3 separate regions of the Homo sapiens genome follow, and regions 2 and 3 are each linked to region 1. The links come from fine-mapping of genetic effects on gene expression. A gene starts in region 1. Each other region holds a variant in brackets. All regions are shown on one strand. Distances are between the middles of the regions.

Evidence for each region.
Region 2: its variant is fine-mapped to the expression of BCAR3 in lung (TOPMed, PIP 0.93).
Region 3: its variant is fine-mapped to the expression of BCAR3 in regulatory T cells (Schmiedel 2018, PIP 0.95).

The regions. Positions count from the first base shown.
Region 1 is chr1:93,676,817-93,687,218 of GRCh38, forward strand. BCAR3 (BCAR3 adaptor protein, NSP family member) reads right to left here and starts at 5,021. Exons shown (of 12, transcript NM_003567.4): 1 at 4,782-5,021. RefSeq lists a silencer at 4,764-5,043.
Region 2 is chr1:93,605,486-93,615,887 of GRCh38, forward strand. The region is part of intron 3 of BCAR3 (BCAR3 adaptor protein, NSP family member); the gene reads right to left. Among named protein-coding and RNA genes, the nearest start is that of BCAR3-AS1, 19 kb to the left of the region's middle. RefSeq lists enhancers at 4,211-4,774, 8,009-8,662, 8,663-9,315, 9,969-10,402. The variant G/A (reference allele first, on the strand shown) is at 5,518.
Region 3 is chr1:93,860,262-93,870,420 of GRCh38, forward strand. It overlaps DNTTIP2 (deoxynucleotidyltransferase terminal interacting protein 2), which reads right to left. Exons shown (of 7, transcript NM_014597.5): 7 at 6,023-9,683. The coding sequence ends at 9,590. Among named protein-coding and RNA genes, the nearest start is that of DNTTIP2, 14 kb to the right of the region's middle. The variant C/CA (reference allele first, on the strand shown) is at 6,882.

The sequences.
Region 1 (10,402 bases):
TGTGCATAGGGCCACACTGTTGATCAAATCTATTTCCAATAGCATGATGGGCAAAAGTCACCCTAGCACCACTGCCTTTGGCAGCCTGTTTCCTCTCTGCTTCCCCAAGATCTACTTAGACTTCAAGATTGTCCTAAAGTGTTCTAAAATGTCCTTCAAGTTACCAACACCTCAATTTATTCTCCAATAACAAGGGATGTTAATACTTCCCCTTCTTACCTTCAATTCAACAAACATTTAAGTGCCTATTTCATACAAGACACCTGGAGAAACAAAGATGCCTAAGGCCCAATACCTGACTATGAACTCTAAGAGAGAATAATTCATAGAGGCCCTTATGCTGAAAGGAACAATTAATTTTGACAAAAGGACTTGAGAAGGCTCAGAGAGGGCAACAATAGAGACAAAGCATTTTGAAAAGTTAACATGTGGGGAAAAGCCTCCCGGGAGGATGGCAGATGCATAAAGGCATGGAAGTGACCCCACAGGCTCAGGACATTCCCAGTTGTGTGCTGTGGCTCGAGTGAAGCCGAGAAGCATTTCCCAGAAGCAACTTAGGTTAGCATCAGACCATGGAGTCTTGAAGGCCCTGCCAAGGTGTCTGGACTTGACTGGAAGTGCTAGGGAAGATCTGGAAGGGAAGGACCGAACCCAGTCTGTACCCAAGTAGGTGACTCTGGTTGTTCTGGAGGGGAGAGAAAAAGGAGGCAGGGAGGTTACTGAGGCTGATGGTGAAACCCATGGAGGAACAATGAAGAATTCTGACCTGGGGCAGCAGCTGGGTAAAGGGAGAGAAAGGAGAGAGTGATGAGACATCAGAGCTTGAGGCATCTGGCTGGAAGGAAGGAGCCTACAGCCACAGAAGGTGGTGCGATGCTGTAACATGCCAACTAGTTTCAGAAGGGGACCCACCCCTGCAGGAACCAAGCACAGCACTGGAGCTGCTGCATGTGAGGTATCAGCAAACAATTTGGTCTAAGAGGAGGTTAGATACTGGTATGCACAATTAGAAGTGAGGGCAGATGGAGATTTTTAGGAATCATCAACATAAAGGCAATATTTAAACCAGAGAGTAGATCCCTTAACTTGTTATTATCAGATGTGATAACAGCTGTGAAGTACCTCTTAAACTGTCAGGAATCATACAATACCCATGAATTATACCCCTGCTCTCTCTTACCATGGCTTCTTCAAGCCTATAAGGACCAAAGCAAGGAATGAGTTCTACTATAAAAACGTAAACCATTGGTTCTCAACCTGGCTACACATAAGAATCCTCTGGGAAGCTTTTAAAATCCTGATGCCCAAGCCTCAGCCCAGAACAATAAAATGAGAATCTCTGTGGGCGGGACATTAGCATCAGTCTCCAGTATTGACCAATGTGAAGCCAGGATTGAGAACCACTGGATTAGTGAGTCTTTTTGGTACACAGCAATTGAGTCATAATTGTTTACCTGCAAAACAGAATTCAATGATGATGAAGGAGTATCATTCAATCAATAGAAACATTGATTCTTCAATGCATACATTCATGGAGGGTCTCCTTTATGGCTGGCACTATGCTAGGTGTTGGGGACAGCATTAAACAAGACAGAAGTGGTCTGTCCTCATGAAGCTAATAATACTCTGGAGGAAGCAGACAATAAATTATGACCATAAGTACTGGTAATTCCCAGTCCATTTTTCTAGATAAGGGAAATAAATGTTCATTTGATATATATTCTCTGAGGGCTTATGGTGTACCAAGGCTAAGGATATAATAAATTAGACAAGCTCCTGCTCTCATGGAGGAATCCAACCTATACAAACAAGAAAATGAGTTAACATCCAAGTTGTAAGCACGCTAAGGAATATAAACAGGATGAACTGACAAAGGATGACTGTTGCGGGTGGAGAGCTACTTTACATTAGGGTGGACTGGGAAGGCCTCTCTGAAAAGGTAACAATGACATGAGACCTGAAAAAAGGCAAGGGAAGGAGCCAGTCAAAAAAAGGTCTGAAGGGGGTTCCAGGCAAGGGATCTGGCAAATGCAAAGGTCTTGCCATAGGAACAAGCGGTTGGAATGACAGCTGATGGAGACTAAACCCAAGTCTCCAGCCTCTGGCTCCCATGTTTTCTCCACTTGGAAATATTTCTGTCTCAATGTCCCTAGTCATTATATACTTCTTATGTACCATTTGATTTTTTAAAAATAAAATGGTATGACTCAGAACCTAGGCTTTGGAGGCAGATATCTACAGGTTCAAATCTCTACTCTGCCACTGACTTACCAGCTGTATGGCCTGGGACAAGTTACTCAACCTGACGGTTTCTCATTTTAAAAAATGACTTAACAGCTATTTCATAAGATTGTTGTAAAGATTAAAAGTGATTGTGTATACAAAGTTCTTGAAATACTGCAAACACTTAGTAAATAGCAGGTCCCCTCTAAGCAGGACAGGGGCTGCTCTTATCTATCTTGTCAGATAAGAGTCACTGTATCTCTGTTATACTGAGGGTTCACAAAGGAAGTAACTCTGAGAGTTCACAAATGAAGACTGCAACTGGGAAGGATGGGGAGGGAAACGTTTTAACCTAGAACAATAGATGCAAAGACACCAAGCCAAGTAGGACATGGACACGGACACAGACACAGACACACGTACAGGCAAACCAAGTGAGCCTACATGCAGTCTTTAGAAAAAAGCCCAGGTGAGACTCTGGCCATCTGACTTCTCTCTACTGTGCAGGAAAACAAACACAATGTCCTGACTCAGTCTAATGCCAGATTTTGAAATATTATACAAAAGTCAAAGACTCTGCATCTTGATATGAAAATCTGAGACTCATGTGAACATCAGGAACAAGAGCGAGGCTGACAAACTTTACCACATGTGCTGCCTTCCTGGGCCTGGTCAGTCGCTGGGCTTTGAAATGTTTGTGAACTGAGGCCCAACTCACTTGCTTTACAATGATGTCTCAAAGAAACTGATGATCTTGCAAGCTGAGGCAGAGATAAGCAGCCCACTTGTTTGGATTTTACTCTTTTATTTCTGAAACGGGATATTTTCAAGTTTAACTCATAATGGTTATCTGATGTGAGCTTTAAGAACTTTTCATTATATTTTAAACTCTGGAAATGTAACCGTCTCGGCTGCCCCATGACAGAGAATTTACAACTTGGATCTGTAGTTTTATAACTTCTCTGGAGAGTCAGATGGAGAGAGGAGATGAAACAACCACACATATTCAATTGGCTTATCCACTTAAAATGAAGTTTTGCTTGGGTTTAGGAATTAAGAGTATCTCTTTATTTTTGAAGTAAACTTATGAAGTCTAGCCAAATGATTCAAGTATGAATAATTCCTCCATGGATTGTATTTCAAGCAACACAGTACAGGATTTACCCGATAAGGTTCTTAAGATTAGCATCCATTTGACAAGCAGTTCTGCCTATATGAACAGGAGATTTAGACCTTGGTTAGTCATCCTGGAAATGCCAGCCTTCTCAGCAGCACTTTAGAGAAAGTTGGAGTTGGAGTGGTGTGGGATCCCCTGGCTTGGCAAGGTCTTTACGTTATCCTCAATACCCCCTGGCACGCCCGCAGACAAGCGCTTTGCCTGTGGGCTTCCCATTGTTACCCGGGTAGCCCCTTCCCACTTGGACCTGTGTTGAGCTGGGCCCCACCCCCAGCACTGAGGCCTCTCCCAGCCTCCAGGATCTCAACTCAGTCCCAGGCAACACAAGGGAGGCTATCAGCTCCCAAAATGACCTTCCCTCGGCCAGCGTACTTTCCTTGGGGAGGTCTGTGTAGCCTTGGGAGATAAAGTCAAGGTTTAAAACAATCTGAATGCACGGCTCTACTTTCCATCTCAGCTAACAGCTTTAAGCGAAAACAGATATGAGGTTAGGAAAATGGTTTTTCTCCTTTGCACCTTGCTTCAAGCGAGTTAACCCCAACCATGACCCGACCCGCCGCCCCACGGAACACGCCGCCTTGCCAGATGCTTCGGAGTCCGCTCAACCTCCTCCTCGACGAGTGTCTACACCTGATTACACCGTTTTAAAGCGGCGGCGCCCTCAGCGGCCTAAGTGGGTAAGGACAGTTGGGCTGTACGATCTATCGGAACCTCCTTCCCACCGTCCCTCCCTTCCTTTGCCTTCCCTCGCCTCTCCCCACCGCGACGCAGAGGGAGCAACACAACCAACTATTCATTCTTTCTCAACAAAGGGAGAGAGGGAGGGAGATGTTGTCAACAGTTACAGGGCAGGCTCCTTCGCTTTCTTTGCAAACTTCCCAAGAGATTACCGGAGAAACTCGCCTCCTCGGAGCCTTGGGCTTCCACCAGAGCGCTCTGGGCCCTCGCATCTGCCCGACCCCGGCCGGCTTCTGCGAAGAGGGGACGGGCGGGACAGGGCGGGGTGGCCGGCAGAGCAGCTCCGACGGGCAGGGGGTCGGGCGAGGCCAGCGCCCGGGAAGATGCCGCTCGAGTGCCACCGAGCAAGATGCCTGGCCGCCAATCGCTGAGCGCTCCCCGCCGTGGGCCACGTCTCGGGGAGTCCCAGCGCGCTCGGAGGGCCTGGAGAGCGCAAGCCCCAGCCCCACTTCAGTCACCCCCGCCCCCAACGCCAAATCCGCTGGCGGGGGTGGGTAGGGACCAACAAACGCCGGCTCTACTTTCCCCAGAGCCTAACTTTGTCCAACAAACTTCCTAGCGTGTCCTCACCGGGGTGGGGGAGGCCCAGGCGCCCCGGGAGGAACAGCACCCCGAGGACGCTGGGCGCGCGGCGGAGACTCACCTCCCGGCGCGGCGCTGGGCGCTCGGGCTCTCAGGATCTCTGGACCTCCGGCTGGGGCTCAAAGGCGCCGCGCGGCCGGCCTCGCACCGCCCGCGCCGCGGCTGCTCCCGGAGCTGGGGACGCTCATGGTCCGCGGGGCGTGCCCGCCGAGAATCCCGCGCGCGTCTAGCCGGTGCGCCCCGCAGCTCCGGCTCCGGTCCCGGCCCCGTCCCCCGCCCGGCCAGCAGCAGGCGCAGCTCTGAGCCGGCGGCGCGCACTCCGGCCCTCAACTGGTGATTTGCGGCTCCGCGGCCCCACCCCGGCGAGCCGATTCGCGCTGCCTTGCGGAACCCCCCGAGACATTTACATTCGGTGACCTAGCCAGGCCCTCCTCTGCCCGGATTTTAGAGTTTGGCTCTCTTCGTATCTCCCCAAGGAGCCAGTCCTCAAGTATAGCTCGATCACTTCCTTTCTGAAGCTCTCTCCAGAGACAGCCTCGTCGAATCCACTCCTTCCCCTTCCCCGCGTTATTTAATTACCCAACAGATCTGCTTTGCTCGTCTGCAGACACCTGGCTGGCTTTCAATGTGAAGGGCTTTGATGAGACAAAGCCCCAGGTAACCACAAATGAACCATCCACGGGAACAGGCAAATCAATTGCACTCGTATGGACGTATTGAAAGCAAAGTGCGAGTTGGCGGTGGCACTTCAGCACTAGATGATTTGGTGGGGTGAAAAATTGGAGCCCACTGGAAAAGACTTAACACTATCTTATATCAAGATCCATTATAAAGTCATAGAAATAGTAGAAGGATAGACAAACTGACCAATGGAATAAAGTCCAAAAACAGATTTACAATATGTGGTCACTTGATTTATGTCAGGTGCTGCTGTGCTGTATTGGGGGTCAGATTAGCTCTCTCTTTCCAGTAAATGATGCTGGATCAACTGAATCCCCCCATCCCCAGTCAATTCCAGATGGAATTTTTCTTTTCGAGACAGAGTTTCGGTCTTGTTGCCCAAGCTGTTGTGCAACGGCATGATCTTGGCTCACTGCAACCTCCGCCTCCCGGGTTCAAGCAATTATCTTGCCTCAGCTTCCCAAGTAGCTGGGATTACAGGCGCACGCCACTATGCCCGGCTAATTTTTGTATTTTTAGTAGAGACGGGTTCACCATTTTGGTCAGGCTGGTCTCGAACTCCTGACCTCAGGTGATCCACCCACCTCGGCCTCCCAAAGTGCTGGGATTACAGGTGTGAGCCACCGCGCCCGGCCTCCAGATGGATTTTAAAGGTAAAAAGTAAACCAATAACACGATCCAAAGAAAATGTCCAAAAAAATCTTCATTACCTTGGGGTAGACAAAGACGATGTCTTAAACACATGTAGTACTAATATAAAGAAAAAAAACTCATCATTGGACAAGATTAAAATTAAGAGCTTCTGTTCATGAAAAGACACCACGAGTGAAAAGGCAAACCGCAGAGTGAGAAAACATAATTGCAACACATACATCCAAAAAAGGTTTGTTTACAGATATATAAAGAACACCTACGGATCAGCCAGAATAAGGCAGAAAATCCAATTAAAAACAGGCAGAATATTTCAACTGTCCTCAAGAGAGGACAAACAGGCATTTCTCAAAAAAGCCAATAAACATATGGAAAATATCTCAATTTATTAACCATCCCAAAAATGCAAATTGATATTTCAATGTGATCTAACTTCATACCACCCAGAATGACTAAAATTAAAGGGCCTGACCATACTGCTCGTCAAAATGAACTTTTTACAACCACTTTAAAAACCTGCTTGGCATTATCTAGAAAAGCTAAATTAACATGTATCCTATGACCCAGCAATTCCACCCCTAAGTGTGCACCCAACAGAGATGTATACACATATTCACCAAAAGATGTTGAAAAATGTTTATAATGTATCTCTTTATGACGGCCAAAAAGAAAACAACCCAAATGTCCATCAGCAGAAGAGAGATAAACTGTGTAACATACAACATAGTAATAAGAATGCATGAACTCATTTACACTCAACAAGATGAGTGAATCTTACAAATAGGATATTGAGTGAAAGAAGCTGGCCGCAAATGGGTACATACTATATGATTCCATTTACATAAACTTCAAAAATAGTCAAAGCATATCTGTGATGTTAAAAGTGAAGACAGTGGTTATATTGAGCTGTGGATTATGACAGAAAGGGATCCCAGAGGTGACTTCTGCATGCTGATAATATTCTATTTATTAATCCATGTCATTTTATAAAAATCACCTGTCCTTCAGTTTATAAAAATCAATTGATTTGTGCATGACTCTGCTTGTATGTTTTACTCCAAAGAAATTTTTTTTAATTGTACTGTATTGGGTGTACCATTTTAATCCCTCTTAGAAACAGTTGTTGGTAAGTCTACAAGATTCTAAGTGCAGCATCCTTTAGAATGAGTACCTTTCGCTTATGAGTGTTTTTGTGGGTTAGTCTTTATCCTTCCTACTTCATTAGAAGCATGAATATTTGATTTTTGTTGTATTTTCCCCCAAGTGTTTAGTGCAGTGAATGTCAAACAGACCAGCTAGTATATTTCTAAATCGAAGTATCCGAAATTCATTTACTGATTTTCTGTTGCTCTGAGGTGTCACTGAGAACAGTGGAAAAACATTAGTTTTTCTTGATTTTCAAAGTTCCCTGAGTACCTACTATACAGTATCTACTGCATAACCTACAAAGTTTCTAGTGCAGAGCATGGGGGAGGTAGCAATAAAGAAAGACCAGAAGAAAACCTTGGGCAAGCCATTCTTCCCCTCAGTCCCTCCATTTCCTCATGAGTAAGTGAATATATGCCCACCTCACAGGTTTCCATGAGAAGTCAAGGAAATAATGGATGTGAAACTGCCTAGCACATAGCAGGTTTCATTAATTATCACTAGAATTGATGACACATTCTATCATTTGTCTTCACAATATCCCTGAGAGATAGGAGGCATCTCTATCCTCATCTTACATGGGAGGAAACAGACTCAGGAAGGTTAAGTAACTTCAACCATAAATTCATTCAATAAATACTTGTCGTATGCCTACTGTGTGCCAAGATGCATAGCTAGTGAGAAGCAGAATCTGAATTTGAATCAGGTGTTTTTTGTTTTTTGTTTTTTGTTTTTGAGACAGTCTCGCTTCTTTGCCCAGGCTGGAGTGCAATGGTGTGATCTCAGCTCACTGCAACCTCCGCCTCCTGGGTTCAAGCAATCCTCCTGCCTCAGCCTCCCAAGTAGCTGGGATTACATGCACGTGCCAGCATGCCCAGCTAATTTTTGTATTTTGAGTAGAAACAGGGGTTCTCCATGTTGGCCCAGCTGGTCTTGAACTCCTGACATCAAGTGATCTGCCTGCCTCAGCCTCCCAAAGTGCTGGGATTATAGGCGTGAGCCACTGTGCCCGACCTGAATCAGGTATTTTAAGTTCAGTGGATCTTTCCATCAAACCACAACCACATTCACATTTGTATCCCCTGGGCCTGGCACATGGTAGATGCTCAATATATGTTAATGGTTTAATAGTGGGAGTAATTTAAATATAATTTTTTGACTAGGTAGTATTCACAGAACCATTGCAGTATGGTTCACAAGTTAAAACTATATAATAAGGTATCCTGTGAAAAGTTCCCCTCTTACCTCTGTCTCCCATCTGCCCAGACCCCCTCCCACTAGAAATAAGTACTGCTATTAGTACTGCTATTAATATTGTATGTGCCTACCAGAGTTTCTATGTGTGTGTGTGTGTGTGTATGTGTGTGTGCGAGTGTTATTACCCCCTCCCTACACAAAAAGTAACATACTATACCCATTGTTCTACACTTTGCTTTTTAAAAACCACTTAATATATCTTGGAGATTTTCATATATTAGTACAGAGGGACTCTCTTCATTCTTTTTTGCATAGCATTTCTTTGAAGAGATGAACCATAATTTACCAAACATTTAGCTTGTTTCCAATCCTTTCTTATTACAAACCATATGGCAATAAATAAAATGTGCAAGTATTCTGTAAAATAAATTTCCAGAGGTAAAATTGCTGAGTCCAAGGGTATATGCATTTGTAATTTTGATAAATAATGCCAAATTGCCTTCTATAAGGATTGTACCAATTTCTACTCCCCAGCAATGTAAGAAAATGCCTATTTCCCCACAGCTTGGCCAGAAGGTGTTATTAATAACCCCTTCAATTTTTGTCAACTTGATAAGTAAAATATGAATTTCAGTGTAATTTTAATTTACATTTCTTTTATAATAAGTGAGGATGCTTATATTTTCATGTTTAGTAGACTTTTTTTTCTTTTTTGGAATTTGTATTCCTGTTTTTCTACCCATTTGTAGGTCTTTTTCTTACCAATTATCTAGGACCTCTTTCCACATTAGGAAGTTTAGCTCTTTGTGCTATGAGCTTCACATATTTTTCAATGATAATATTAAAAGGGGTGACATATGCAAAATACTGTTATTTTAGGAAGCAAGTAGAATGAATTAGAGAAGTGAGAGACAAGTTGGGGGCACTGATCAGAAGGCTATGGAATCACTTCTTGCCAAATGACAAGGGCTTTCTCTAGGCTGGTGGGAATAGAGGTAAAAGGCCAAAGTTATTACAAAGAAATAATTGACAAGAGTTATTAATTAGCTCCAGGCACTGTGGTGCATGCCTGTAGTACCAGCTACTCGGGAGGCTGAGGTAGAGGATCACTTCAGCCAGGAACTTGAGGCTATAGTATGCTATGATTGTGCCTGTGCATAGCCACTGCACTCCAGCCTGGGCAATACAGTGAGCCCCATTACAAAAAAAAAGTTAATAATTAGCAATGATAACAATTACGATAACATTAGCTGTACTTGGTTTAGAAGTAACTACATGCCAACTACTATGCTAAGTGCTTTACAAGCTTTAAGCCATTAATCGATACTTGCCCCATTTCACAAATGAGAAAAGTGACTTTACCAATTAAGAAACTTACTCAAGTTCAAATGAGATTTAAATGGCAGAACCAAAGCTAACCCCAGGTCTGTCTGACCCCTGCTGCTTGGCAGAGTGGAGGAGAATTATCAAAGGTCTTCAGTCAGAGTGCCTGAGTAACTGCCTGGCTTGGCAACAGATGTCAAAGCTGGAGAACAGCTCCCTTTGGCTGGAGGGACAAACTCAGTTTTAGAAACGCTGAGCATTTTTCAAAGCTCATTCTTGTCCATGACCACTCTTGCTATAGTGTCTTTGTGAGTCAAAGAGGGTAGTATCCCTATTTTACTGGTGAGAAGACTCAGGTACCACAAACTAAATAACCAGATGTTCTATTCCCTAGGAAACCTTCCCTGACACCCAGCATAGGTCAGGTTCCCCAGTTAAATGTGCCTTACAGCACCCTCTCCTTCCTGGAATTTGTCACAGCCAGTAATTATTCATTTCCGTTATTGCTGTTGAATACCTGTTGCTCTATAGACTCTAAGATCTATATCTGGTTTTGCCTTTGTTTTGTTCTTAGTTTGGGGCCTGGCACTCAGTACTTATTGAATGAATGAACTCCTTTGGCTTTTCACCTTTATATTACATCATAAATCTCCCCATAGGCTAAATAAATATAATCCCCTGGAT
Region 2 (10,402 bases), 71 kb before region 1:
GTAGTGCTTTCTTAACATCTTTAAAGAATGAAAAGAACAAAGACTGCCCTGGCTAAGGCAGACCCTAATAAAAGAGTTTGAAAACCGGCTGATCAGAGTTCAAAATGCTAGAAGATCCAAGCCAGAAATCCTCACCACTGGTAATTCAATCTTGTTAATTCAACATCTTAATGCAAATTATGAATGATCTGGAACACAGCTATTCATCAAACCAGATGTCCTATTTGCTCTTCAATAAGAATGTCAGCAAATCAAAATCAACTTAATTCAAATACTCTCATTTCCTAATTCACCTTGAATGAATGAGATGAATTAGGAAAAGGAGAGTACTGAATGAACAAAATGCACCGTAGTTGAAAGACACCCAAAGATGTAATTGGAAGGAAAAACAAGATATGCCAAACACATGGAGGAAAAGCCAAAGATTCAGACAGCCTTCCAGCGTGGGGTGTAGAACAAATGACTTTCAAATTCTCTCTCTCCAAAATAGTACCATGACTAACTACCATCTTAGAACTCTGCTCTGGGACAAAGCGCATCACATGTCAGTGCTAAGTACGCAGCAGGCTTGCAGTAAAACAAAATGATTCATCACAAGATGGGTTTTGGCCAGACATCAACTGCACCACTTTCAATATACAACTCACAGGTCACTTTAAAGGTATATTCCTTCTAGAGGAGCTCAAAGCACTAGATACCCACATATCTCATTTAACAAGCATTTTAAAAAATGCAAACAGCAAACATCCTACATGTCATGCAGAGAAACAGAGAACCAGAAACTGGACTTAAAGACACAAGATACTCAACCCAATACAACTCAGATCTCATGAGTTCATACAGCATTCCTGTGGGCTAAACAGTGAGCAAGAATGTTTACATCTCACAAGAAAATAGGGTGGTGGTAGGGACAGAAAGAAAGAGACAGGTGAGAGTGGTGTTTAGAAGGTAATATCATGAAGACCTACTCATTAATTACATGTGGAAAATGAATAGGAGGAAGGGGCATGGGCATTCCAGAAAGATGACTGAGCCACCAACATCCAATAAAAATGCACGAGGGCATAGTGGGTTTGTGGAAGAAGATGTAGAACTAAGGTCTGCTGGGCCTTCTGGATGGAGTCACTTACTGGGCCATGGGGTCCAGGTGCTATGGACATAGGTTGACTGGAGAGCCTATCTGGAGAACTACGGCTTGGGAGTCCTCAGTATAGAGGGGTATTCTATCCCAACTTTCACCAAACAGATGGGATACAGCATGAGAAGAGGGCTGGGGGAGGCTTTTCAGAGGCAGACTAGAAAGAGAAACCCAAGAAGACAGTAGGACTGGACAGGAAGGACACAGGAGAACAAACAGAATGCAGTGTCCTGGAGGTTGAGAAAGCTGATTTCAGGAAGAAATGGTCAACATTGTCAAGTGCTGCAGAGAGTTCCAATCATATCAGAATTGGACAGCATCCGCTGCACTTGGCAATGTGCAGGTCACTGGTGGCATAAAAGGGGCTGAGTGGCCAATGGAAAGGGAGGGAGTAAAGACTGTGTTAACTTACAAGTGAGAGTTTATGCATGTATGATATACAGAGGGACATAATAGACACTGGGGACTCCAAAAGAGGGGCGGAGGGATAGGGAGTGAGGGGCTGACAAATTACCCATTGGTACAATGTTCATTATTTGGGTGGTGAGTACATTGGAAGCTCAAATCCCACCGCTATGCAATATATCCATGTACAAACCTGTGCATGCACCCCCAGATCAATAATTTTAAAAAGACTGTTAACCAGCTTCGGGGTGGAGGAAGATGGGGACCAGGAATGAGCATGGAAACGAGGAGGGTTTTTAACATGGGAAAGACCACAGCATGTTTCTAAGCTAAGAGGAAACACGATCTCGTTATGAGAGTTAGAAGGACAAGGCCTGAAGAGAAGGTGGAGGGAGGAAAATTAGGGTGAGCTGAACTAGGACAAGCAGGACAGATGGGAGGCTTCAGGGGCCCAGGGAGGACACAGGCATGAGTTAGGGGGATGCTGCTGCTGCTCCTCAAACTCATCCCACACATAGAGTCCAACGCCCAAGCTCTCACTCACTCCGCATCCAAGCCACTTGCTGGGTCCCCACTGCCCTTAAAAAAAAAAAGGCCCAGCATGCTCTGTTCCCCAACCACCTCTATGGGCTCATCTCCTTCCACTCCTCAGCTTCAGCCTCAAGCTCCCGTATAGGAAGCTCTTTCCCTCTCCTGTGCCTTTTGTCCCTATGGCTCCTACAGTGTTATCTCCTTCAGGAAGTCCCCTGATCCAGGGCTGGGTTAAAGACCTCTCCCTGGATCTCACAATAGGCTGTGCATCCTTCCTGCCTTTGCACCCACCACAAAGCACAGCGTAAGCTGCTTGTATCTCCATCCGCCCACCAGACACAGCAGAGCTCCTTCGGGCGGAATGTTCACCTCTGTCTTCCCCCTCCTAGTAGGCCCTCAGTGCACATGCTAGGGGTAGGCTGGGGAAGGGCGATGAATCAATGGCTTCTGAGTCAGAGGCTGGATGGATAGTTCCTCAAATCTCATCTTACTGAGAATCCAGATTTTACTCATCAGTCCTTTCTACATAACTATTTTTGTAAAAGCACACACATATCTAGAGTAGACACTGGGGAGAGTTCTTCTCCACAAGAACTAAAAGACATGAAACATAGCACTTTCATGAGCTAGACAGAAAAATAGGCCATAAGATTCTCATGGCCAGAGCCAGATTTCAACAGTAGCTCCTGGCACTGTGGACACACACTGGAAATACAGCTGAGGCCAGAGATGGTGTCCAACCTCCTGAGGCTCTCCTTTCCTTCCCAACCAGGACAGGCTGAGTCTCCTCTGCTGTTCCTGGGGATACCCAAGATACCCATCAGCTAAAAGGCCCCCAAGCTATCACTGACAACATCTTTAAACCCAGCAACAGGCCTGGGTCCCCCGTGCACTGCTGACCTCTCGCGCAGGCTGTGCGGGGAGACCTTTGTGGTCGGAGCACACCAAGCCTCCAGCGTCCTCCCCAGTGTTTAGCATGGCCCATCCCTCTGCAGTCCTGGAGGTGCTGAATCCACTAACAGAATTTTCCCAAGATCCCAATCCCGTCTCTGCTTCCCACTTAGGTCTCTCCAACAAAAACAAGTTCTTGGCCAGGATCCCAGCTCCAGGGTCTGCTAGGGAACCGGGTCCTGGGACACAGGCTCTGTCAAGCATGTCTTTCCCCTGATATTGAAACCAGATCCCACCCAACCAGATGCCAATGGAATGCATTTAAGCCTCTTTCAAAAAGCTACACTGTCCTTTCTTTTTGGAGGGCTGGAGAGATAAGTGAGCAACTAGCAGCTGCCACGAGGAGGGGCTGAGTTACTTGGAAAGACATTTCCTGCAAGGCTTCTTCCACCTTGCGCAGCTCGTGCTGATGGTGCATCTGCCCCACTGACAAAGGCAACTCAGGCCATCGTCAATGCTGGGATGTGTCACCAGTCCCCAAGCTGTCACCGTAACAGACAGACCAAATGACCAGCCACAGGGAAGATGAGCAGGGCCTCTGCTGCACCACACACACGCACCGCCACAGAAAGACAGTTTCACATGAAACCAAGTTCCAGGGGCCTGGCACTCTAGGATGGGCAGATGTGACTCCTCAGGCTGTAATATGGATTCCAAGAGGCTCCAGATATTTTTTTCAGGGTAGGGGAAATGACTTTAAAGGAAAACAAAAAAGAAACAATACTACATAGCACTTCCTGGCTGCAAAGACAGTCGAATATAAGTCTAGGAAAGCACATGTCTAACATCCCTGCCTTCTGTGGCTGCTCATTGACAAGACCATGGCCACTAGACTTAAGGCCTGGTTAGCTGAGACTTACTGATTCCATCTATCCACAGGCACCACACCCCAACCTCTCTATCTGCGCTCTTTCAGAAAGGTGGCTTTTCCGCCCTTGCAAGGTAATTCCCGTCTCTTAGGTTCCTCTGACACAGGCACCCCTGACCTTCCTCAGGCGCAAACATTGACAAAGTGACAAGTTTCAGCTCCTTTGTCCCCTGTCCACAAAAATACCTAAATAAATAAGTTACTAACAGTCAGAGACACAAGGGGCCAGAAGAGGTAGGGGTTTGTTTCCAGTGCCAGCCCCAGAAATGTGACCCATTGTGCTTTTTACCAAGTTCCTCCTCTAGCTCACCAGGGACCTGGGGGCGGGCCTGCCAGCGGCCACTCCCTGTGCTCCCCTTCCAGGCTGATGCCTCCCTGCCTGCCCACACCGGGGTACTCCACGTCTCTACACTTTGTGCGTGCTCCTCTCTCCACGAAGAAGGCCAATTCTCCTCCTTCTCTGGATAACTTCGACTAATTCACCAGACTCAGCAAAGGCTCTGCCTCCCTGCAGGAGGCCATCCCTGATCCTCGCCACTCCTGCCCCATCTATGCCAGGCATGTGCCTCCAGGGAGCCACAGCACCCTCTAAAGAGAGCAACACCAAATCAGTGATAACCGATCGTTTCCTTCAACCAGAGTTAAATGTCTGCAGAATGCCCACCAGGCATGGTATTACAGCAGAGATCCCCACTGGACCAACAACTCCCACTGGGTCCCCAGCACCGACACATCCGAGGTACCACAACCGGTGACTGCTGAGCTGAACTAAGGATGCAATGGGATGAAAGCCAATGGGGAAATGTGCCTCAAATACTTATTAACCCCTGGTACAGGAGGCCTGGCTGCTGGGATTATTCCTAGATCCTCTGTGACTTCTCTGACCATGTCACACACTAACCTTCCCAGTGAACCTTCTGCTCTGAGCAGGCCTGGCCTTCTGCACTCCTGCAAATGCCAGTGGCTTTTCTATCTCTGAGCTACTGGGTCTGCTGCTCCCCCAGGCTGAAATGCCGTCCCTATGCCATTCTTTTCTTTGTCCATCCAAATCCCCAGTTATTAAAAAAAGGAGAAAAATTTAAAAGGGGTTACCTGTTCTTAAAAACAAACAAACAACAACATCAAAAACAAAAACAGTCCCACATCCTCCCTGAAGCTTTCCTAAAAACTAAGGCTCACACTGTTCTCTCCCAACTGAACTGCAAAATAAAGTATTAACATACACAATATCATCTTATTTTAGGCGTCAATTGTCTTAATATAGTACAGTAGAAAGAACGCTAGCAGCCAGGCATGGTGGCTCACACCTGTAATCCCAGCACTTTGGGAGGCCGAGGTGGGCAGATCACCTGAGGTCATGAGTTCAAGATCAGCACGGCCAACATGGTGAAACCCTGTCTCTACTAAAAATACCAAAAATTAGCCAGGTGTGGTGGTGGGTGCCTGTAATCCCAGCTACTCAGGAGGCTGAGACAGGAGAAGGCGGAGGTTGTAGTGAGCCGAGATCACGCCATTGCACTCCAGCCTGGGCAACTACGTCTCAAAAAAAAAAAAGAAAGAGCACTAGGCTTCAGCCCAGAAAATCTGCTTTCTATTCCTAGTTCCCCACGAAATGATTCTGGGC[G/A]GGCTGTTTCTCTGAGCCTTGGTGTGTCCTCTGCGGAAAGGGTAAATTATTGCCCTGCTCACCTCACAGAGCTTATTTTCAGACTCCAGTGAGACAAAGTTGTTGAAGTCTTCATAGCATAGAGAGCTTGTTTTGAGACTCCAATGAGACAAGATGTGAAAGAACTCATACATTTGAAAGTCTTTTGCAAATGTAATGAAGTGATATTATGACCTAATAATATCCTTGTGGTAAGTCTTTGAAGGCAGGAACCATGCCTCAAATCTCATTTATTGCCCCACACCTCCCACAAATCCCTCCCCACCTAACAGAGGGCTTATGCATGGACTTTACATTCAACACCCATTCTACATTCAACACGCATGGACTTTAGAACTTGAATATGTCTGTTAATGTTATGATCTGGAATATCTCCATTACAAGTTTCTTTCCACTGGGCTTAAATAAAACACTTTCGTCTTTTTTCCCCCAGAAAAAAGATCCAGTAGTCTTTTATGTAACGGCTGTCTACTGTGAACCCCTTCGGGATATTAAAGTCATGACCCTCAACATGGCTGGAACATCTTGTATTTGGCCCCAACTCTATGAGGGCCAGCACATCCCTGATCCTTCTCTCCATTTTCGGCCTCCCATTTAATTCCTTTCCAAGGTCTTTATACACAAGTCCGTATGAGGCCTCTAAATACATCCTAAATTCTGTAAGACCGCTGCAAATAAGATCTTACTCTCTAAAAACACCTGTATAATCATTCTCCTATGTAAGGAGGGACCCTCTATATTTTTAGTTTTGTTCCCATACAGCAAACACTATTAATACCATCGTACTTTCTCCAGAGATGATATGGATTAGACCAAATGGAAAGTTACCATGGCTACCGCAGTGTTATTTTTGGTATGAGAAATTCATGCCAAGAGAAGCAGTATACATGGTCAAGAATTGGAGCTTTATTTCCTCTTTGCTATCAGGCAATCAATCCCAATTTAATTTTGAAACTCTAATTGCAACGGAAACTAATTATGAGCAGCAAGATCTGGAACCCCTAATTAAAGTGGGAGTCAATAAAGCGACTCGGCATTATCAACTGGGGCACCACTGGCAGGATGGGGGATTAAGTACAAGCAGATTTCTTTCCCAAGTAACTAGCTAAGCAAAACAAAACAGGGAGACTCATCTTGAGGGTGCAGTTGGTAAACCCTAAGTTGGGACCGAGGGCTACAGTTTCCAGTGAGTGAGCAGCTCAGGCCTTCTCTCTGTGCTATGAAGACTTCGACAAACTGGGAATAGAGTAGAAGTCCAGGCGGAAAGAAGGGTGTTTCTACCACAGTCAACCACCAAGAGTGGCCACGGTGGAGAGATAGAGAGTGCACAAGCTGAAGGACAGCTGGACCCGACTACCCCATATATTAAGTGGCCTTTTCTATATATTATGTAGCCTTGGGGCCGTAACTGCAGACCAACAGGTACCCAAACAGAAACTCATCCCTCAGACCCAGATATTTATAGGCTGACTCCCTCATACACCCAATGCTGAGTTGCACTTCACTGAATTAGCAGAAGTTGGCTTGTGGAAGGACTTCTATTAGAGTGAAACCCACTGCCAATCCCCGAAGTGCACCATACCCTTTGGGACCTCCTAGTCTATCTTGGAAGCTTTAAAATACTGTTAATGGCATGACTTCATCTGCCCCACACTTGAACGATCCATATTTAGGCCAGAAACCACATGGATCTCGCATCACTTCACTGGGCTCCAGGACAGAAAGGGGCTCAAGTCAGGAAGGGAATGCTTCTAACCAATGATTAATTACTCATCCTCTGTCAAATTTCTTGACAAAGGGACAAAAATGAACACTCCTACCAGGGAGCAAAATCAATGGAAACTCACCCTTTTCCCACTCTGTATATTTTTAAACAAAAAGGTTTTCTCCCACTAACAGGTAGTTTTCCTGATTTTTTTAAAAGCGTATTGAGAAGAAAGAAGCAGAACATCATAACCCTGCTGCAGCCTTTTCAAAGGTAATGAATGAGCCAGTCCCACAGGAGAGGGAGCTCTGCTTCAGGGTGGGAAGGATTCCTTGAGAGCTTTCAGAGTCCAATTTCCCAGGAATAAACGAGGTCCGCAGTCAGGCTGGGGCCGACAGGCTTTTTCCAAGGCAGACAAACCCCAAGATCCACGAAAGCCTATATTAATCTTAATTCCTAGTGCGTCACAGGCAGGCAAATAGAACACAGGCCTCATCTTGAATTAGCCAAAGGAGGTTCTCTGAATATTTTCATCAAAATAGTGTATTGACATATTATACAAAGCTCTTGGCACCGGTGTCTTATAACAAATGTTAAAATGTGAGCAGTAAAGACAACAACAGTTCTGAACCCTGAGATGTTTTGAAACCTGGCTGCAATTTGAAAGGAAATATTGTGTGGCTTCTGTACATTATGTACATTATTGATAAGTAATGGACCAGCAGGATAAACAGAGAAAAGGGCTCAGCTACCTTGTGTTCGTTAGAAATGAAGGAAGAGAGACAAAGAGAGAAAGAAGAAAAATAGCTCTGTCCTATTGAGCTACTTTAGTATAAAATTTCAGCCTACAGAGAACTGAAAGTGTCCTGAAAAACAGCTTCAGCCCAAAACAGACAAGGAGCCCTGTTCTGTGCCACTGGGTTCTGCTTCCAGGGGAGGTACACCACTAGGGGCTCTTGAAGACCCATCAGTCAAAGAAAGCACCTCTGTTTTCACAATCAGCAAGCTGCAAACTTTTATCTATTGCCCTTTAGGAAACTCATGCTTTCAGGGTCCCCCAAAAGATTGACAGATGTACTTTATTTCCAAACCAAACCTACCTTGACTCCAATGAAAGACTTGCGGTGATAGAAGCAGCACAGAGCTGCTGAGAGGGCGTGGAAAGCACTGCATTCCTTAGGCATCTTTCGGTCTTCAGTCCCGGGGACCACACACTTTCTTTAGGGTTAAAAGAAAGGGGGCTTCGGACGTTAAAGCCCTAGCCCACCACAGCAGCTGTGCTGTTTCTGCCCAGAAGTCAGGGAAGTCGGCAGCCGGGGGAGTGAGTCGGCTCCTTCTCCCAGGCTAGTCTGGGACTTTTCCCCTCTGCTGAAGCCAATACGATCCACTCGCTCAATTCTCGCAGGCTGGTGTCCAGCCTGCCATGCACACAGTGCCAGAAATTCTCATGTGACCAGACTTGCTTTCTGATGAAATTCTAACCCCTCTTAGAAGAGGCCTTGGGCTTTAGCTGTCCCCTCAATTTAGAGACCAGGCAGAAATCATTAGCAGCCCCTCTCCCCCGACCCAGAATTTCCTTCTGGGGCTGAACTGTACCATGCGACCTGCTCCTAGTGGTTCTGTCTGCTTGTCACTCCAGCACCCAGAGGTTTAAGGAAGCAGGGTAAGTTGTACATTCACACCACCTTGTTATGAACAGAGGCTCCTTTGAGGAAAGGAGGTGGCCTAAAAGTGACTTTCCCTAGGAGAAATACTAGATGTACTAAGTAACCCAGGCAGGATCCCTGTCCTCACTCTCCCAAGCCCACCTCCAGAGCTGTTTATTTTTAATTAAGATGCTCCTGGCAGCCAGTTTGCAGCTGATAACGTTGGCACAGCCATCACTACTGGCAAAGCAATATTGCCTTTTGGTGTTTAATTAGCAAGTCTGTCAGCAAACACCCTGAGCGCCCTATGCCCTCCCACCTGGCTGTGCAACCTGTTGGGAGGATGGGGACTGTGTACCCACTTCTGACTCAACTGTTTGTCCTATACCTTCCTTTAAATCCTTCACTTTAATTACTCATCGCCACTCTGATTACCCACTTTGCGTAACCTAGATCCTGCACACAAACCTCGCATCCAACGCAGCCAAGCAAGGCCCTCCTGGATTCCCTGCGACCTGAGGCCTCTACCCCTACCAAGAGCCACATAACACCTTTAGGGAAAACTAACTGCTTTTCCCTTCATTCCAGTTATAGCGGATGCTCAACGAGTTCTTTTTTTTTTTTTTTTTTTTTAATCAAATCCAGATTTCTGCCTGTAGCTCTTCCTCTCCTATCCTACCGCTCCAAATATTAACTTTTTGTGGCTTCGGCCTCAAATATGGAATGTGTCCTGAAGCTTTCTAAAACTTCACACAGGCAGAAACTTGTAATGAGGAAGAAACAAGATCTATTCAGTCCAGAAAGGAACAATACCAGATGAGGCATGAGGGAGGTATGAGAAATATCCAACGGGATTAGCGTCAAATCCTCGGGAGACCTTGGCCTTTGGACTAGGTCAAGTCTGCCCACAAAAATAGGAAATTGCTCTGGGCCCAGTGAGCAGGTATGGAGAGCCACAGTCTCACACCCACGCAAGGGCAAGGGCCCGGCCTCATCAACGTGTCAACATGGGGATGGAGCTGCTAAGTGAGGCGCTATTGCCACAGCGAGTGTGGGCGATGACTTCCTTTCTGCTTTCCTCCCTCACTCATTCTCCTCTCTGACTCTGGAGGTCTGGTCTGCAGTCTTGACGGCTCCCAGGCCACAGAAAGTCCACCAGAGAACCTAGAAGGAAGCACCAAGGTGGCAGAACTCAGAAGGGTTTTCTGAGCTGGAAGAGCCCTTGAAGACTGTCTGGTCAGTGGGTCCCCACTGTCCTCGAAGGTCCAGTACCGCACCTGTGAGGAAGCGTTTTCTGGCTTGCCCTCATTTCCGTTAGATGGAGTTCAAAGGGTAAGTCCGTGTGAGCAGCCAGGCCCAGGCCCCAGCAGTTCTGTGAGCATGACTCATCAATCAGGCCATTAGCCACCACAGAATGGGCCATTTTCACCTGGTATTCTCCTTGGAGAGCAAATAACGATTCCTTCAAGCTAAAAACCTCCCCAAGAGGCTAGAC
Region 3 (10,159 bases), 180 kb after region 1:
GTATCGTGAAAATGGCCATACTGCCCAAGGTAATTTATAGATTCAATGCCATCCCCATCAAGCTACCAATGACTTTCTTCACAGAATTGGAAAAAAAACTACTTTAAAGTTCATGTGGAACCAAAAAAGAGCCTGCATTGCCAAGTCAATCCTAAGCCAAAAGAACAAAGCTGGAGACATCACGCAACCTGACTTCAAACTATTCTACAAGCCTACAGTAACCAAAACAGCATGGTACTGGTACCAAAACAGAGATATAGACCAATGGAACAGAACAGAGCCCTCAGAAATAATGCCGCATATCTACAACTATCTGATCTTTGACAAACCTGACAAAAACAAGCAATGGGGAAAGGATTCCCTATTTAATGGTGCTGGGAAAACTGGCTAGCCATATGTAGAAAGCTGAAACTGGATCCCTTCCTTACACCTTATACAAAAATTAATTCAAGATGGATTAAAGACTTAAATGTTAGACCTAAAACCATAAAAACCCTGGAAGAAAACCTAGGCAATACCATTCAGGACATAGGCATGGGCAAGGACTTCATGTCTAAAACACCAAAAGCAAGGGCAACAAAAGCCAAAATTGATAAATGGGATCTAATGAAACTAAAGAGCTTCTGCACAGCAAAAGAAACTACCATCAGAGTGCAGGCAACCCACAGAATGGGAGAAAATTTTTTCAATCTTCTCATTTGACAAAGGGCTAATATCCAGAATCTACAATGAACTCAAACAAATTTATTAGAAAAAAACAAACAACCCCATCAAAAAGTGGGTGAAGGGTATGAACAGACACTTCTCAAAAGAAGACATTTATGCAGCCAAAAGACACATGAAAAAATGCTCATCATCACTGGCCATCAGAGAAGTGCAAATCAAAACCACAGTGAGATACCATCTCACACCAGTTAGAATGGCGATCATAAAAAAGTCAGGAAACAACAGGTGCTGGAGAGGATGTGGAGAAATAGGAACACTTTTACACTGTTGGTGGGACTATAAACTAATTCAACCATTGTGGAAGTCAGTGTGGCGATTCCTCAGGGATCTAGAACTAGAAATACCATTTGACCCAGCAATCCCATTACTGGGTATATACCCAAAGGATTATAAATCATGCTGCTATAAAGACACATGTACACGTATGTTCATTGCAGCACTGTTCACAATAGCAAAGACTTGGAACCAACCCAAATGTCCAACAATGATAGACAGGATTCAGAAAATGTGGCACATATACACCATGGAATACTATGCAGCCATAAAAAATGAAGAGTTCATGTCCTTTGTAGGGACATGGATGAAGCTGGAAACCATCATCCTCAGCAAACTATCGCAAGGACAAAAAACCAAACACCACATGTTCTCACTCATAGGTGGGAATTGAACAGTGAGAACACACGGACACAGGAAGGGGAACATCACACACCAGGGCCTGTTGTGGGGTGGGGGGAGGGGGGAGGGATAGCATTTGGAGATATACCTAATATTAAATGACGAATTAATGGGTGTAGCACAGCAACATGGCACATGTATACATATGTAACTAAGCTGCACATTGTGCACATGTACCCTAAAACTTAAAGTATAATAAAAAAATAAAAATAAAAATAAAAATAAAAAGAAATTCAAGAGCAGCCTGACCTACATGGAGAAACCCCATCTCTACTAAAAATACAAAATTAGCTGGGCGTGGTGGCGCATGCCTGTAATCCCAGCTACTTGGGAGGCTGAGGCAGGAGAATCGCTTGAACCCGGGAGGTGGAGGTTGTGGTGAGCCGAGATCGCGCCATTGCACTCCAGCCTGGGCAACAAGAGCGAAACTCTCTCAAAAAAAAAAAAAAAAAAAAAAAAAAAAGAAGAGGGCTGAGTATAGAAGACAGAAACCCAGCACAGACATTTGAAGGACAGGCAAATAATGAGTCCTTCCAAGAGACCAGGAAAGGGTGTCCAGAGAGATAGGAAGAGATGCAGGGAAGAGGTGTTTCCCCAAGAACCAATGGAGCAAGTTTCCTCTGGAGGAGAAGGGGGTCAAGAGGAAAAGAGAATCACCTAACATTTTTTGAACACCTGCTTTATGCCAGAAAGTTTATTTAACCCTTACCATTTAATTATCCCCCAATTCTAAGAAGTGTGAATTATCCCCATTTTACAGATGAGAAAGTTAAGATGCAAAGATGTTCTGAGAGTCGGGTGAAATGATCAGCCTAAGAATGGTAGAAAAATGCCTGTCCTTCTGAGGCAAGAGGGAAGGGGGCAGAGATAAAAGCATGAAGGTAGACAGGGGACAACTGAAGGTGTTCATGTTTGAAGACCTAGCTTCTGTGTGCTCTCTTTTACAGCTCTACTCATACCTAGGACCTAAGGAAGGTATTGACAAAGTGGAAGCTGCCTTAAAGGATGAGACACTCCCACCTTTTTGTTGCCTATGACCAATACAGATTCTAAAAGACCAGAGGTCAGGAGCGGTTTCATATCAATTTCCTCCTTATCTGGGACCTTCTACATCCATCAGTTTATATTTTGTAACCTACTCACCCTCAGTATGTAACTTTTGAGTAGTAGTTTGTGCGAGGAACTATGCACGAAGGAAATACAAACATGAGTGAGATAGAGTGAATATTCTTAAAAGTTGAGCCTAGTGAGGGACAGAGAGCATGGATTGGTGATTTCATTAATTAGGATTGGTTTCAGCTATGAGTGTGACAGGACACCCACAATAATGGTGGACTTTACAAGATAAAGGCTTTTTCTCTCTCATGTAGAAATAACAGCTACCAGGGAATAGCAGCTACTTAATCATGAGAGATCCAGGTTCGTTCTTATTCTTCCATCCTCAAAATGCATATTCTTCCATCCTCAAAATGCAGCTTCCACCTCCTGCTCCAAGATGGCTGCTTCTGGTCAACATACCAGGAGCCATCAGGTCAACGTACTAGCTTGTGGGAAGGAGATGAAAGGGCAGAGAAGGGCCCTACTCCAACCTCATCCATCTTTGAAGGACACTTCCTAAAAGTTGCACATACCACTTTTTTCTACTCACATCCCATAGGAAGGTGGGAATTACAGCTTTTTTCCCCCAGGTGGCCACATTCTCAGCCAAAAATCAAGTGTCCTGTAACTACAGAAGAAAGTTAAAGTCCAGCAATTTCTGCCAGTGATGCTGAAACAGGTGTGCAGATAGCTGTAGTTCAAGACAAGAATAAAAGTGTGACAGAGATTTACACTTACTAGTTCTGTGACCATAGATTAATCTCTGTGCCTCAGTTTCTCACTTATAAAATGGGATAATAGCACCTACCTCATAGGTTTACCAAATGCCTAAGTTATTACATACAAATATAATGTTACATATGTACATACGAACTTAGGTACATAAGTGTAACATAAAAATAAGTTATATGTGTAAGTCCTTAGAACAGTCCCTGACAATAAGTGCTATATAGACATTTGTTAAATAGAAATAAGTGGAGTAAAAATAAGCACAGGCAAATAGGAGTATATACATCCGTGTAGAGAATCTGAAAAAGGCTTTCTGAAGCATGTAGACTGTCAGCTCTGTGATGGCTAGGATGACCTCCTTTCCTGTGCACCCCTAGCACCTAGTGTGGTGCCTTACACAGAGGAGATGCTCAAAGTATTGGTTGCTGAATAGGCTTCAGGTCAGTACTATTTTGTTAGGTGAAATGGAGGCAGGAAAGATATTTTAGGTGGAACTAACCATATGAACAAAGACATAAAAGGTGAACCTGTCATGGTACTTGGTGTGCATGGAACTCAGTATATGTTGATTGAATGAATGCTCAGTATCAAGTAGTTTGGTTTGGCTGAAATGTATCAGTCTGGTTTGGACAGAAAAACACATCACTCTAGAGAATTTAATATAGGGAATTGTTCCACAGGTGGCAGAAATGCTGAAAGTGTTGGCAACGCAGATACTGCAACAGTAGGAAACGTCTACCACCTCTAGTGCCAGAGGGACAATGGGAGATGGTGTTACCGGAACCTGGAAGCCTGAGTCATCTGGCTGGTGGGGGCTGGGAGCATGGTGGGGCCACAACCCAAACCAAGGCAGAGGAGAGAAATACCCTGGTTTATTTCCTCTTCATGCCCCTCTGTCTTTTGTCAGTGTCTTACTGTTAAGCCAGTTGGCAAGGGAATCTGGGAAATGTAGTTTCCTGCAATCCAGACACTCCAGAGCAGACCAGAGAAAGGGTGTGAAAAGAGCTGAGAGAGAAATAGGCAAGTAAGTAGCACAAGTGAAGTTTAGGGCATGAGTAGGGAAGCAGTGAATATAAACCTGTGGTGGCGTCATTTTGTGGAGGGGCTTGAATGTCAGGTCTTGAATGTAGGGTTTCTGTATGTGTCATTACGCAGAGGTGAGCCATAGAAGGTAAAATGCAGTATGGCCTCATTAAAACTGTTCAATGGGGAGGTTGGGGGAGAAAAGGGAAACAGTAGCTTCCCTTTGAGTACTTGTTATTTACTAGGCATGGTGCTAGTTTTTATTTAATCATCTCAGAAAAATGATGTGTTTGGTTCCAGATACGTGGAATTTGAGATAACTTACTAGTACTTCATATGGGTAATTTGCACAGTTAATTGGAAATGTGAGTCTGCAACAGAGGGTGGGGGATAGAGATGTAAGGATGGAGACTCTGGTGTCATCTGAAGAGATGAGAGCAGAAGTTGAAGGAGAGGGAGGACAAGATACTCAAGTCAAACAGTATCGAGAAAGAAGATGAGGGCAGGCATTAGGGAAACCAACAATTTAAGTGATGGACAGAGTAAAAAAATAAAGAGTAGGTAGGAGAAGCAGAAAAGCTGATCTTCCTACCGAAGCAGAGTAGCTGAAGCCTCAAGAAGGGGAAGATCAGTGTGTCAGATGACATTGTCTGGTTAGAAGGGATGAAGACTGAGAAAAAAATTGAATATAGCAGTATGTAGGAACAGTTTCTCTAGACTGGTGGGGCCATGAGGAGGTAAGGCAGCCTTCATCAGATGGCCATGGCTGGTTTAGCGGAGGAGGAGTAAGTAGTTTGCTGAGGCTAGGCGTGGAAGTTGGGTTCTGGGAGAATGGAAGTGTCCTGTATCTCCTGCGTGCTCTTTGGGTGTAGAGGCTGCATTAGCTTCCCTGCTGTACCCAAGTGCTTATATAATGCACAGGACTCAATTATTTGTGTTAGCTGACTCGCAGGATGAATGACTGAATTTGGCAGAAAGTATTTAAAATTGAATAAATGGATTGTGGAGTGGCAGTGAAAACCCAGCTGAGTCAATAGCTTCATTATACTTTCCTGAATCTCAATAATCTAGACTGGTAAGAATAAGAATAGTGAGTGTTTCCCTGACTGGGATTGGTGAGGCGAGAGTAACAGAAACCAAAAGACTATTAATAAAGAGACTAGCGGGGCATACAAAGAATTTTTGAAATGTCTGATGAATTGGGTCTAGATTGGTTAGGGAGAAAAATGTATCTTCATGAGGATAGAGGATTCAGAGAATGAGTGGCTGAAAGGCTTGAAATCATGATTTCACAATGTTTGGGGGGTGAGACCCAGGCATCAGCATTTTGAAGCCACCATAGGTAATTCCAAATTGCAGCCAAGGCTAAGTTGGAGACAACTGAAGGGAAGACTAACAGGATAACAGATAACAAGATACAAATTGGGGTAGTCTGAGTTAAGAATCTTGACCACTGAATTCTCAAACAACGAGTCTAAGGCCATGATAGTGATTCGCTAAAGTGAACTGGAAATGAGGGTAACTGGAATTGATAAAATTGAGCTTGAGGAACTACAGGGCCATCTTGATTTGAAGGTATGTCTTGTATGTCCTCCTAGAAATCCTCTATGCACAAACTTACCTAATTTTACATTTCATAGTTCATTGGAGATGTCTCATTTCTCCAGTGATAGAACACTGATCCGCTTATGACATTTAATTATAGGTCATGGTATTGATCCTACTTCTTGGAAGATTTTTCTTCACTTCAAAAACTATGTGACAATGAGAATAATTGCACTTTACATTTTAATTAGACAGATGCTTGGGGAATTGGTTAATTAGAAAGCCCTTTTTGTTGCAACCCTTACTGAAAACTTTCAATAAAGATATTCATCTAATTAAATAGTAAGTACAAATTCCATTAAGTAAACAATTAGGCATTTTTCAATGGTTTGGGATCTATTGTAGGTAATTATTCTGAACAAGTTGTCACTGCCTGAGAGACTGAATACCTGGTACATCTCTCAGAAATGTTAACTTTTTTTTCCCATTATGGTATTTTCTTTAACTTGCTGTTTCTAAGAATGGGATCCTATTAATGTATACCAGTTACTAAGGTTTTGTTGAACTTTTTTATATAGCCTCCCCACTCCCCACTCCTTTTGTGACATCTAGTTATGGGACCCAAAAAAGACATTTTCCCAGGTTTCAGAAGAGGAATATTGGTGTTTCTCTAGAGCAGTTGGTTTATCATACAGCAGAACACTGAACACAGAACTGATTGTGTTGGATGCTAAGAACCTAGCCCAGAGCCCAACTTTATCAACTGTAGTCTTACAGCATCTACTTTGTTTTAAGAACATTTTGGGCCAGACGTGGTGGCTCCTGCCTGTAATCCCAGCACTTTGGGAGGCTGAGGCCGGTGGATCACCTGAGGTCAGAAGTTCAAGACCAGCCTGGCCAACATGGTGAAACCCCGTCTCTACTAAAAATACAAAAATTAGCCGGGTGTGGTGGTGGGTGCCTGTTAATCCCAGGTACTTGGGAGGCTGAGGCAGAATTGCTTGAACCCGGGAGGCGGAGGTTGCAGTGAACCAAGATCATGCCACTACACTCCAGCCTGGGCGACAGAGCGAGAGTCCGTCTCT[C/CA]AAAAAAAAAAAAAAAAAAAGCATCTTGGAGCCAGATGGTGTATAAATACAGCATTCTTTTCGAAATCTTTCAAGATCTTCTCAGGGGTATCTTGAAGGTCTCTTTCACCAGCACACCTGACTGTGGCAGCCCTTTGGATTCTTTATACTTTTCTGGTATAAAGCCTTCAAATAGTTCCAGTTGGCTGGGCATGGTGGCTCACACCTGTAATCCCAGCACTTTGGGAGGCCGAGGCGGGTGGATCACTTGAGGTAAGGATGGCAAAACCCCATCTCTACTAAAAATACAAAAGTTAGCTGGGCATAATGGCATGCCCAGTAGTCCCAGCTACTTGGCAGGCTGAGGTATGATAATCGCTTGAACTTGGGAGGCGGAGGTTGCAGTGAGCTGAGATGGCACCACTGCACTCCAACCTGGGTGATGGAGTGAGACGTCTCAAAAAAAAAAAAAAAAGTTCCAGTAGGTGAACTGAGTTTAGTGACACAGGCCAAAGTCAGTAAAACCTGTTTCTCAAAAGACTTGCTTATTAAAAAGCAAAACATAACTTCATCCATTATTTAAATATCCAGGTATTTGTAGAAGGCCAGAAGCACTAAAGGATACAATTCTCTCATACTGGGTCCTTATTTTATCCAGTAGAAGGCAAAACATAGTATTCCAGAAACAAAAGTAGTTTTTTTTTAAAATAAAAGAGAACAGACATAGATGCTTCCCTAACTCCAACTATGAATGTTATTGTCAGTTCTGCTATTACTAGCTTTTGACTCCAAGCAGTAAATATGAGATTTTGGACATAGGTATGGGCAGACTGCATGACTAAAACACCAAAAGCAATGGCAACAAAAGGCAAAATTGACAAGTGGGATCTAATTAAACTAAAGAGTTTCTGCACAGCAAAAGAAACTATTATCAGAGTGCACAGGCAATCTACAGAATGGGAGAAAATTTCTGTAATCTATCCATCTGACAAAGGGCTAATATCCAGAATCTACAAAGAACTTAAACAAATTTACAAGAAAAAACCCCATCAAAAAGTGGGTGAAGGATATGAACAGACACTTCTCAAAAGAAGACATTTATGCAGCCAACAAACATGAAAAAACGCTCATTATCACTGCTCATTAGAGAAATGCAAATCAAAACCACAATGAGATACCATCTCATTGCCAGTTAGAATGGCAATCATTAAAAAGTCAGGAAACAACAGATGCTGGAGAGGATATGGAGAACTAGGAACACTTTTACACTGTTGGTGGGAGTGTAAACTAGTTCAACCATTGTGGAAGACAGTGTGGTGATTCCGCAAGGATCTAGGACCAGAAATACCATTTGACCCAGCAATCCCATTACTGGGTATATACCCAAAGGATTATAAATCATTCTACTATAAAGACACATACACAAGTATGTTTACTGTGGCACTGTTCACAATAGAAAAGACTTGGAACCAACCCAAATGCCCATGAATGATAGACTGGATAAAGAAAATGTGGCACATATACACCATGGAATACTATGTGGCCATAAAAAAGCATGAGTTCATGTCCTTTGCAGGGACATGGCTGAAGCTGGAAATCATCTCAGCAAGAACAGAAAACTAACACAAGAACAGAAAACCAAACACTGCATGTTCTTACTCGTAAGTGGGAGGTAAACAATGAGAACACATGGACACAGGGAGGGGAACATCACACACTGGGGCCTGTTGTGGGTGGGGGACTAGGGGAGGGATAGCACTAGGAGAAATACCTAATGTAGATAGGTTGATGGGTGCAGCAAACCACCATGGCACGTGTATACCTATGTAACCTGCATGTTCTACACATGTACCCCAAAACTATTATTAAAAAAAAAAAAGATTTCATATTTGCTGATATCTCAAGGAAGCAGTATGCTGGAAAAATAGAGGTAAAGTGAATAGTAACATAAAGGAAGCTACAACTCACCAAGTATCAACAGAAATGACCAACACTCCTTGGGTGCCAGAAACCAGCTTAGCCAGGGTGCATACTGTACCACTGGAGAAGAGGTAAGCTGGGTTAACTTCGAAGAAACCCTGGCCAACTTAAATTATAGTTTAATCCTGTTTTACTTGGACCACAACACTTAAATCTAGATAAAAACCAATTATTCCTCCCTGTTTCAGTTGCCAAGCAAGGAAAACAGCTCCTCTGCCCAAGCTTTCTAGGTCATATTCTTCATATCTTTGTATCCCAACTTTCTGGATCTGAATTTTATAGCTAACTATAGGGCATTGCCTCTCTACCATCTCCCGTCCCCTACACAGACACACACACACATACACACATAAAACTACCTATTAATTACAATAATGTTTATATATCTTTGATCATTTTTTAAAGTTCTTTGAACATGTTAGCAAACTTTATACTTCCTATCTTTTAATTAAATTTTCTTTAAATAACTAAGCATTGAAAACTTTACAAACCATCAGTTATCTTAAAATGGTTGAGATTTTTTTTCCTTTTTTCCCATAAAGAGTCTACACCAGGGTGGGTCTTTTAGACACCCCTATTTTCTAAGGGCATGTAATCGATTCTCAAATCAACTTTTTCCAAATACAAATTCCTGTATGAACAGGGCCAGTCTATGGTAAATTAATTTAGATGATGGTGTTAGTTTTCCAAACGTCTTTAATAAGTAAATAAAGGAGCAATGTAAAATGTTGCAGTTTGCTTGGTAAATCTTAATTGCGAAATTTCTTCTTCTTTCGGAACTTTTTTCCTGCTGCATTTGCTGCTTTTTCAGCCATGATCTCTGAGTACTTCCTTCGGTTGTATCTGAAAAAGAAAAATCAGAACTTTATGTTTGATATATCAGACATTAGAAGTTAATATAACCTTAGGGTAAAAGTTGGGAATGGAGTGGTGGACAAGACAAGTATAGTCTCTGACCTCATAGCACTTGCTTGCAATCTAGGGAGAAAAAATGGCAACTGTAGTAGGAAGACTTTCCTACTATATGCACTATATCCATCTATCTATCCATATATCCATATATGATCTATATATGCACTATATCCATCCACCAGGCTGTATCAAATGCTTTAAACATTTTTGAGGGATAAAAACACAAAAATCAGGACTAAGCAAAACAAAAAGTCACACTTATCCTGAAAATGCACAGTATGATATATATATTTCTTAGAAGCGACCAATGGTTTTCAAAGTGTGGTCTGTGGAGTAGACCCTTTCAAGGGATTCATTAGGTAAAAACTATTTTCTCAAGAATACTAAGGCATTAATCGCTTTTTTCA